Regions from separate parts of the Homo sapiens genome. Here region 1 is linked to region 2. Evidence: fine-mapped expression QTL. A gene starts in region 2. The other region holds a variant in brackets. All regions are shown on one strand. Distances are between the middles of the regions.

Region 1 (5,378 bases), 12 kb before region 2:
CTCCACAGCAAGTCACACGGGGTTCTTAGGCCTCAATTTTCCAGGTGACAAGCCTCAAACCCCAAGGGGCCCATTATCCCCACATCGTTTAAGGGATGTTTTTCTGTGGAGGCGGCTCACAGAGCTCTGTGGGGGCAGAAAAACCTCCGCCCATGGCTCCCCACATCAACAGGCCCTGTAAGGATTTCTCTCGCAGGTTGTGCAGCTGAAGACGGCAGACCTTCCCAGTTTTTAATCAATGAACAATTTTCAGGAAGAGCAGGGAGAGCCTAGGGGCTTGTCGCTCGCCTGGACACACCCCCATGCCAGGTCAGAAAGGCGAGGGAACCGCTGCAGCCCACGCGAGTCCCGACGCCTTCCCGCGAGGAGACGGAGGCCGAGCCAGCCTTGCAAGTTAGCGCCCGAGCCAGTCCGCGCCCGAAGATGCCAGCTGTCCCTGGGCCGGAAGGTGGTGTGGGGTTTGTTTTGTCTTCTTTCCCCCCGATATCTATTTTTTGATAAACTAGCAAAAGCTTGTTCATCGCTGAAAGGCTCAAAGCACTTTTCAAGAACTGGCATCCACCCCGAGCCTTATGAATTCATTAATTAAGATGCTGGCAGACAGCCACTCCACACACGCCGCCATCCAGCCGCGCTAGGTAATGAGGTTTTAGTCTCCTGACCCCCGTCAAGTGGCGCAGAGCCAGATGTAGGCTGCCGCGAGAAATCACCTGCCCAATGGCGACCTGTCGCTCTCGCCTGGCAGCAGGTGAGGCTCATTTAATGGTCAGCGGCCCCTGAACAGTCCTCTGCGTGCTGCGAGCCTTTCTCCCAGCCCCTGGCTTGGGGTTCAGGGTCCCAGCAAGGTGGCGTCTAACCGCCTGCTCTACTGTGACCTCCACTCAACTGGGCCCAGACGTCAGGGTGGAAGGTTCAATGCCTCCTCCTGCCAATCGAGCCAGTTCAGCAAATATTTATTGACAGTCCACTCACCTGCTCCTAGCCCTTGTCTCAGGAAAGTGGGAGGTTCCCCTGAGCCCTGTGCACAGCCTGCTCCAGAGCGGAGACCGTCTTCAGCCACACTTGGTGCTTCTGCCTGCCCTGCCCCACGGAGGCTACTGCAGTGGCTGGCACCATACAAATAACCACAAGCGTCAAGCCTTCCGGTGCTCTTCCTGGCCTAGGCCATTCTCTCCCCTCAGCCTACCACTTCTCATGGTCAGTGATCCTGCCTTTTTTTTTTTTTTTTTTTTTTTTTTGAGACGAAGTTTCCCTCTTGTTGCCCAGGCTAGAGTGCGATGGCACCATCTCGGCTCACCGCAACCTCCACCTCCCAGGTTCAAGCGATTCTCCTGCCTCAGCCTCCCGAGTAGCTGGGATTACAGGCATGTACCCCCATGCCTGGCTAATTTTGTATTTTTAGTAGATGGGGTTTCTCCACGTTGGTCAGGCTGGTCTCGAACTCGTGACCTCAGGTGATCCGCCCGCCTGGGCCTCCCAAAGTGTTGGGATTACAGGCGTGAGCCACCGCACCCAGCCGATCCTGCCCTCTTTTTCTGGTAAGGATTCCAGTGAATTTTCAATGACTCCCATTAGCATTTATTCCTTACAGCAGATACTGTCAACTGGCCAACACAACACCGACTCCCCACCCCTGCTCCTTTGCCCACCTCTACTCCAGAAGGTGGAAAAGCTCAGCAGATGCTCTCCCAACCTCACTGCAGCTAGGCTTGCTCATGACCCAGTTCTGGCCAATGAGACGTTCCAGAAGTCAGCTAGGAGACTCCTGGGGAAGCTTATGCTTTGTTGATAAAAGGGACAGTGTTGTTCCTTCCTCCTCCTTCCTGAGTTAAAGTTGAATATTAGACTGGAGCTGTGGCAGCTATATTGTGACCATGAGGAAACAGTGAAGAGAATGCAGAAATACCAACTCTGACATAGCTAAGCTTTTGAACCAATGCCAGTAGCC[A/G]CCTACCTACAAATTTTTTTTTTTTTTTTGAGACGGGGTCTCTGTTGCCCAGACTGGAGTGCAGTGGCACGATCTTGGCTCACTGCAACCTCCACCTCCTGGGTTCAAGCAATTCTCCTGCCTCAGCCTCCCGAGTAGCTGGGATTACAGGCGTGTACCACCACTCCTGGCTAATTTTTGTATTTTTAGTAGAGATGGTGTTTCACCATGTTGGTCAGGCTGGTCTCGAACTCCTGACCTCAAATGATGCACCTGCCTCAGCCTCCCAAAATACTGGGATTACAGGCGTGAGCCACTGCACCTGGCCCCTACAAATTTCTATAAGGGGAAAAGTCTACTCCCATTTGCTTAAATCATTGAGGTCAGTTTTCTATAACTTGTAGCCAAAAGCTTTCCAAACTGATAAACTTTCTGTACTAGGGGTCAGATCCAACCAAGTTATCCACTTTAGGATACCGGCTAAGACACCACACATCTGTTAACTCAAGACCAACTGGTCACTGAAACATCTAAAGACACCAGTTTGAACAGTCCAGCTACAAAAGAAAAGTGCAATGACAAAGGAACAGCTCATTACCATCAGAGATCCGAAAACACAAACAGGTTTTACATCAGTCAAAATTCTCCTATCAGTTTAGACTGAAATTCAACCTTTCCTTCCTCCCACACAACATTAAAATCAGTACTGGGTGGGTGATTTCTCATTTGAACTATAATTTTCTTTTCTTATTAAGAATGAAATCTCAGAAGCTAAAACTCACAGTTTTTTCCAACTCTGAGATCTCATATGGTGGCAAATGAATTGGATAAAAAGACCTCAAAAGGAACCACTTTGAGGGGGAGGCTAGAGGGTGCCCTGGTTGTCCTAAGAGGTGGCTGCTTATACAGCTGGCCCAAGCCAGCCCTAAGGGTGAGTGCTGCCTGCTTGGTAATTGCTTCATTACAAGTGGAGACTGTTTGCAGGTGCTGAGATCACTCACTTGTGGGGGTTTTATTGCACTCGTCAGATTAACAAACATTTTTGATTAAATCACCACTTCATTGGCTCTGAGCACACAACTTTTAATAAGAGGACAATATCTACTGCTACTGAGCATCAGTGCACATTCAATACTCAGACCCGCTGGGGGCAACTGAGAAGCAAGGTGGGGAGACAGCCAGCCAGATGTCAGGCTTTTTCCAAGGCACACGGTTACAGATGTCAAATCTTCGAATATCCAAGCAAAAAGTAAACTTAGGGACCAAGATAGCAAATATAAACATCTACCGTGGTATGGAGAGGGTAAAACAATGGAATCTGCCCCAGTATAAGGCACTTGGAGAATACATGCCCCACCAAGTTTAAAAACGTAAAAATCCGGCCGAGTGTGGTGGCTCACGCCTGTAATCCCAGCACTTTGGGAGGCCGAGGCGGGCGGATCACTTGAGGTCAGGAGTTCAAGACCAGCTGGCCAACATGGTGAAACCCCGTCTCTACTAAAAATACAAAACTTAGCTGGGCATGGTGGTGCACGCCTGTAGTCTCAGCTTCTCGGGAGGCTAAGGCACGAGAATTGCTTGAACCCGGGAGGCTGGAGGCTGCAGTGAGCTGAGATCATGCCGCTGCACTACAGCCTGGGCAACAGAGCAAGACCCTGTCTAAAAATAAAATAAAATAAAATAAAAACTTAAAAGTCTGTCAGCCAAACAGAAGACATCTGTGATCTGTATTTGGGCCATAGTCAAGGAGTTTGTAACCCCTGGTGAAATTCAAGTCCTTCATGTTATAGATGAGTGAACGAATGCCCAAGAACGAGTTTGACTTAGCCATGGTGGAAGGATGCAAAAGAAATACAAAGGCTGGAGCTACCATGTATTGATTACCAATCCGGTGCCAGGCACGTGCTGGGCACTTAACGCAATGTCTCATTTAATCCTCACAACCACACTGTGAGGTGAGGTGCCATCTGTAGTGAGACTACAGGCTGTCTGTGAAAACACACTGGTCTCTTCCTCCATAGTAAGCAAACAGTAGCTGGCTATGTGGCCTCCTGACTGGTGAACGCATTTCCCTGATCCCTTGCAGTCAGGTGGGGTTTTAGTTCTTGCCAATGGAAAGTGGACAGTTTGGGCCCAGGACAGTGGGTGTGCTTCCTCCATTCTCCTCTTTCTCTGCCGGTGGACACATCAGTGGGGTATGCCCCGGTTCCACTGATAAGGTGACAAGATCTCAAGAGATGGTGAAGCCACAGAGGAAGGGAATCTGGCAGAACCACCATAGACCTGGTACTCTAGACCAGGAGTTGGCAACTAAGCCCTGTGGCCAAATGGTCTAAGGACTGTTCTTGCAGATAAAGCTTTAGTGGAACACTGACACACCCACTTATTTACATATTCCTTCATTTACATACTCCTACCTTAGCCTGAATACAGTTGGTTCTTGTTGTTCCTGGTAGCTATGTCCTATAAAGTTGCCTCTAATATTGAATTAGCAAATACCAAACCAGGTGAGGTTCCTGCAAGCCTATGGACACAACATTTTTGCAACCTTGTTTCATGTGTGATTCTGTTTAAAGTGACCTTATTCAATATATATTGTTGATTCATTAACACTGGACTCACAACCAACAGCACTATACGTGCTGTTACATCATGAGTTATATCATGCCTGAACAGTTTATCTAAAAAACCTGTTTTCTTCTACAACACATCACAGCCTTCTTGGATTTAGGAATGCCAGACAGCACTTCAGCCCTATGCTTGGGGTCGGGGGTCGGGGATCGGGGGCACTTTAAACAGCAAAATCAGGCAGTGGCTCACACCTCTAATCCCAGCACTTTGGGAGGCCGAGGTGGGCAGATCACCTAAGGTCAGGAGTTCGAGACCAGCCTGGCCGACATGGCAAGACCCCCGTCTTTACCAAAAATACAAAAATTAGCCGGATGTGGTGGTGGTCTAATCCTGGCTACTAGAGAGGCTGTGTCGGGGGAAGGTGGGGGTGAACACTTGAATGGGAGGTGGAGGTTGCAGAGCCAAGAGTGCACCACTACACTCCAGCCTGGGCGAGAGTGAGATTCTGTCTCAAAAGCAAAACACAGCGAAATACCAATAAAAAACATGAGAATGAAAAAAACAAAACAAAACAAAAACAGGGCACTAAATAGAACACAATAAGGACCCTTGTTTACAGTAGGACAGCTGAAACAAGGCAGGGCATCATCACCTGTTCAACTTTAGCTGAGAACATGGACTGCGAGCGACTCAATTTTTTTCCCACTGCTTTGCATTTGCCACAAAAGCACTGTGAGTACTGATTTTGGGGTTACAAATACATTTTAGCCATTAGGGAAATTCGCAAATGTGGAATCTGTGAATAATGAGGATCAACTGTAGTTGCAACCCAGACCATTTGGCTCTCTAGAAGAGACCATGTCTCTTCTAAAATAGTTAC
Region 2 (5,378 bases):
CTGGAGTGCATTGGTGCAATCTCAGCTTACTGCAACCTCCGCCTCCTGGGTTCCAGTGATTCTCCTGCTTCAGCCTCTCGAGTAGCTGGGATTACAGGCACCCACCACCACGCCTGGCTAATTTTTGTATTTTTAGTAGAGACGGGGTTTCACCATGTTGGCCAGGCCGGTCTCGAACTCCAGACCTCAGATGATCTGCCTGCCTCGGTCTCCCAAAGTACTGGGATTACAGGCATGAACCATCGAGTCTGGCCCACCCTGCGGTATCCTCTTGATGAGAAGAAATTTCTACCAGACATTGGTGCTGAGCTAAGCTCTGTGGCCTTTCCTGGCATGCTGATATTCTCTTATCCTATGACTACTGTATCTTTTGTAACTGATCATGTTTCCCACTTTGTTCATGAGAAAGCTCAGAACCAAACTTGTTCAGGGACTTTGAGCATAAGTTTCCAGGTACAAGAATTTTCCCTGGCTTTATTTGATTTTTCTACCCGTGTTTTCCCTCCGCTCTATCCCCTTACTATTTTTATCCCACTATATTGTGTGCATTTTGCTAAGCTACCTCAAATCCTTTTTTGAAACACAAAGGAGCATAAATAAATCAATAAATAGATCCTGTGTTTGTAAATATGGCACTTTGTTCTTTCTACAGCAGTGTTTGTATCCATTAACTCTGTGGGTCCTCACATACCTCTGTGAGGAAAGTAAGGCAGGCTCCATTGCCCCAATTTTCCAGACATGGAAAAGTTTGCAGAAGAGGATACTCACCCCCTCCCTCTGTATAAAAGACCATATGAGCCTTTCTGAAGAAAACGAGAGTAAGAAACTAACAGCCTATTAGGTGACTTCTTAGTAGATATAGATTGAGGAAGGAGAAAACCAAGGTTGCTCTTGCCAGTTGGAAAGGATACAAATTGAGGTGACCCAGGCTTCAGAGAGTCCCCCAGAGTTCACGTCGGTGTTGCCATCTCCCCCAACCACCCCACCTTCTTATAACAGATCCACTCCCACTGTTCACATGGGTGGCATATGATCTAAGCGGGGCAGCCAGTCATAGAACCACATGTCCCTAGCCATAGTGATTAGTTCAGAAGGGAGGACTCATGATCTGAGCTAGGCCAATAAGAATCCTTTCCTGAGATTTGTTTCACCTGTAGCTGGGAAAGGAAATCCCACCTTAGCTTTGGTTGCAGAGCAGCTGACGTGTGATCCTGGAACTGCTGGCAACAGTGTTCTCTTCCTGAGAAGAAGCTCATGGAGTATGAAAGAGGGCAGGCAGCCAGCACAGGGCAGCAGCAATGAGAGACAATGAGGAAGACTGCCCTGGGGGTGCTTGTTTGAAACTTGAATTCCAGGTGCCCTAGCCTCACTTTTGCCCCTCGGAGAGTGGAGGCCAACAAATTCCCTCTTTTGAGTGAGCTAATTTGATCTGAGTTACTTCATTTACAGCCCACAGATTTTTTGATTCATGTAGTTTTTAGACTGAAGGAATAAACCCAGAAGTTTGCTTCTCTGGTGTCCAAGTTTTGGTTTCCCACCTCTGTGGGTCTCAATGTTCAGCTTATCCGAGAGGTCTTAGGCCCTGGGAAGTAATAATAATAATGTGTCTATCTACAACTGGACCACAAACAAAAGTACTAGAACCTAGTTCAGAGCGTGGATCTGACTCTGCTCTTCATCAACTGTGTGACCTTGGGCAAGTTATTTAACCTCTGAGCCTCAGTTTCTTCATCTGTGAAACAGAGATCATAGTAGCAGCTACTTCATAAGGCTCTTGTGAGGATTATACATAATAACCCTTTTCAGCATATGACGCTATGCCTGGCATCTAGTTAGCACACCACAAATATAGTTCAATTATTATGGATAATTTTATACACAATATCCCTCAAACAGTTCTATGAATAAGGCAGAACACAGATTCTCATATCTGTCTGGGCAGCGAAGACTGTGATGCTTAGAGGGCCGTGACCCACTAGGTCACGTAATAAGTGGAAGAGTCTGGATTCTGGACACCAGAATCAAATCCGGAGTCCCCCCACTTTGGACTTTGCTTCTCAAATGGCATTGTGTTGGCAACTGTCAGAAGGCCAATTTAATAGCTTATAAAGGGCACTGTCCCTCCAGGGACAGTGTTTATTAGAGAAGTCAGATTCTGGCCAGAATGCTGCTTGGTGGGGACAGAAGATTGGCTCTGGAAAGATGTCCAGAGAAAAGACTGCTTAAGCTGAAGTCCCCAGGCACCCCTGGCCAGTGTCAGCACACCCTCCTTCTCCCCGTCTTCTCCCTCGCTGCCAGCTCCTTGTACCCGCACACTTTACATATGAGAATTCTAAAAGACAGACGGTCAGAACCAGAAGCTAATATAGGGATCACTGTAGTCCACTCAGCCTTTATTAAACAGGCATAGTAGATGTAATGATGAGCCAGACACAGATCAAATCTCTCATTTACAGATGAGAACTGCGAGTCTGGGAAGGAAGGTATCTTCCCTAAGGTCTACTGTGAATTAGTAACTGCGTTAGGCACCTTCTAGAGAATATCTGCCTAGCTCACAATAGGCCCCCTTTCCTGAGGTTTGTGTGATCCCACCTACCCAGTCACAGCTGATTCGATCAGAGGAACACACCTGACCAAAGCTGGGCCAATCAGATTTTAACTCCCAGGAATCTGACCCTAGGATGAGATGCTGATCATAGTTAGCCCAGGGAGGAAGGGGACAGAATGACAGCATGGTTATATCAATGGTCCAATTCTTGGTTCCAACCCTTGATTGTCCTTCGAGAGCACCACCCATTCCTTACAACACATCTCTCCGCTTCATTTTGGGAGTTTTGAAGTTATTAAAGTTATTGATTTCTTTTCCTTACAACCAAAATAATCTAAATTAAGATTGTGGCCAAGTTTGGATTAAAACCTGCCTCCCGGCTCCAAGACCCATGTTTTTCTATCATGCTGACTGGCAGCAAAGACGTCTTCCCATGGATTTTTCAGAACTCTGTTCTTTAAATGTGACCTTAGATGCACCAGACTCATGCCATCCAAAGGTTGGAGGTAGGTGGTGGTGGGGGGTGGGGGTAGATGGTGATGGGGATGGGGGTAGGTGGTGGTGGGGTGGGGGTAGGTGGTGGTGGGGGTGGGGGTAGGGGTAGGTGGTGGGGGGTGGGGGTAGGGGTGTGGGTAGGTGGTGTTGGGGGTTGGGGGTAGGTGGTGGTGGTGGGGGTAGGTGGTGGTGGGTGAGGGTAGGTGGTGGTGGTGGGGGTAGGTGGTGGTGGTGGGTGGGGGTCGGGGTAGGTGGTGCTGGGGCTGGGGGTAGGTGGTGGTGGGGGTGGGGGTAGTTCTGGCAGGTGTCAAGTTCTTTGTTCTCTAACGCAATTACCTTGGGGTGGGGGATGGTGGCTACAGTGAGGCCTTCACCAGCTGCGCACCCAGGGCAGGTTGCTTTTCTCAGTTTCCTCCTCTGATATTTATCTTGTATGTGTAAAGTGCTTAGAGCAGTGTGCAGCAATGCAAGCTATTTATTATGTGAGTAACCTGCTTTTTAAAGATGGCATTTGCCCACAAAACCTTCTTAGACCCTTAGTGTTTAGCTTTCACTCACATCTCTCTAGCTACTGTAATTGCAGCCTGGAATGATTACATTTTCAGCAAAAAACAAGTCACATTCAAAGCCCAAGTGTGATAACCACATGAAAAGCAATCAGTCTCTGTCCTTTGACACACCTTGATATGAAGGCTGTACCTGTGATAAGGTAGTTGTCTCAGCGTATACATTCCCTAGGACAGGAGCTGACCAGCTTGATTGAAGTTTCTCATGAAACTTTCATTCAACAATTATTTGCTAAGTGCCTGGGCTGGGGGACAGGGGCTGTCTGTATGGTGACAGATTAACAGATAAATACAATACCAGGACTGTGAGAGAGGCAAGTGTAAGGAGCTATGGATGCAATGAGTATATGGACCCAGTTCAGATGGGGGCATTAGGGAAGGAGGCCCAGAGGAAGAGAAAGATGAGTAAGAGTTAGATGGGCAATGGAATTTTACACCCACAGATCAGCAGACACCTGACAAAACCAAGTGGGTACAAAAGTCTGGAAAGCAAATCAGCATTAACTAGCAAAGTTGAAGATGCATTTGTGCACCAGTTGAGGTATATGAGCGTGAACTTTGTTGCAACAGCGAAGAATCAAAAACGTAAATGTCCATTGTATTCATTAGCTGCTGCTGCAATAAAGCTGTGTAACAAACAATCCTAAGAATATCATTGGCTTATAATGACAAACATTTATTTCTTGCACACAGGAGTGCAGGTGAGCTGGGGTGAACTCACGTTCACATTGGCTACAAGTAGCTCTCATTTGGGGACTCAGGCTGAAGAGACAACAGCTTACTGGGAACATGCTCTTCTATGGCAAATGGCAGGACCGCAAGATGCCAAACTAAACCATAAAAGCACATTAAAAACCTCCATTTGTGGCCAGGCGCAGTGGCTCACGCCTGTAATCCCAGCACTTTGGGAGGCTGAAGCAGGCAGATTACGAGGTCAGGAGTTCAAGACCAGCCTGGACAACACCGTGAAACCCCTTCTCTACTAAAAATACAAAAATTAGCCAGGTGTGGTGGCACACCTCTGTAGTCCCAGCTACCCAGGAGTCTGAGGCAGGAGAATTGCTTAAACCCGGGAGGCGGAGGTTGCAGTGAGCCGAGTGAGACTCCGTCTCAAAACAACAAGAACAACAAAAAAACTCTCCTTTTGCATCACATTCTTTAGCATTTGCCCGGTTAAATTCCATTAGGCCAAACCCCAAGTCAATGGGATGGGGATATATTCTCCATCTACTCTGTACATCAAAGGGTTTGAGTGTATAGTCCTATATAGTCCTGGAGTAAAGAATTGGGAGTGATAATTCAACCAAACCATGAATAGAAGAATGGATCAATAAACTGTGGTGTAGTCATACAATGAAATATTACACAGCAATGAAAACAAATGGCCTAGATCGGCAAACTATGGCCCATGGACCAAATCCAGCTTGCTGCCTGTTTTTGTAAACGAGGTTGTTTTGGAATGTGGCCACATTCATTCATTTACATATTGTCTGTATCTGCTTTCGCACTGTAATGGCAGAGTTGAGCAGCTGCAACAGACTGTTGGGCCCACAAAGCTTAAAATATGAAAAATCTGTCCCTTTCCAGAAAACTTTACCGAGCTCTGATCTAGATCTACGCATATCAACATGGATAAATCTCACAAACATAATGTTACACGAAAAGACAAGTTGCAGAGGAATGTAAACCAGAGGATCCCATTCACTTAAAGTTCAAAAACATTCAAAATATTCAAAACGGTGCTACATACTGCTTGTCTTAGTCCCTTT

The links. PIP is the estimated chance that this variant, and not a neighbour inherited with it, causes the effect.
Region 1: its variant is fine-mapped to the expression of LINC02520 in hypothalamus (GTEx, PIP 0.92).

The regions. Positions count from the first base shown.
Region 1 is chr6:37,492,845-37,498,222 of GRCh38, forward strand. All of the region lies in intron 1 of CCDC167 (coiled-coil domain containing 167), which reads right to left. Among named protein-coding and RNA genes, the nearest start is that of CCDC167, 4.4 kb to the right of the region's middle. The variant A/G (reference allele first, on the strand shown) is at 1,949.
Region 2 is chr6:37,504,651-37,510,028 of GRCh38, forward strand. It overlaps LINC02520 (long intergenic non-protein coding RNA 2520), which reads left to right and starts at 2,698. Exons shown (of 4, transcript NR_126057.1): 1 at 2,698-3,054.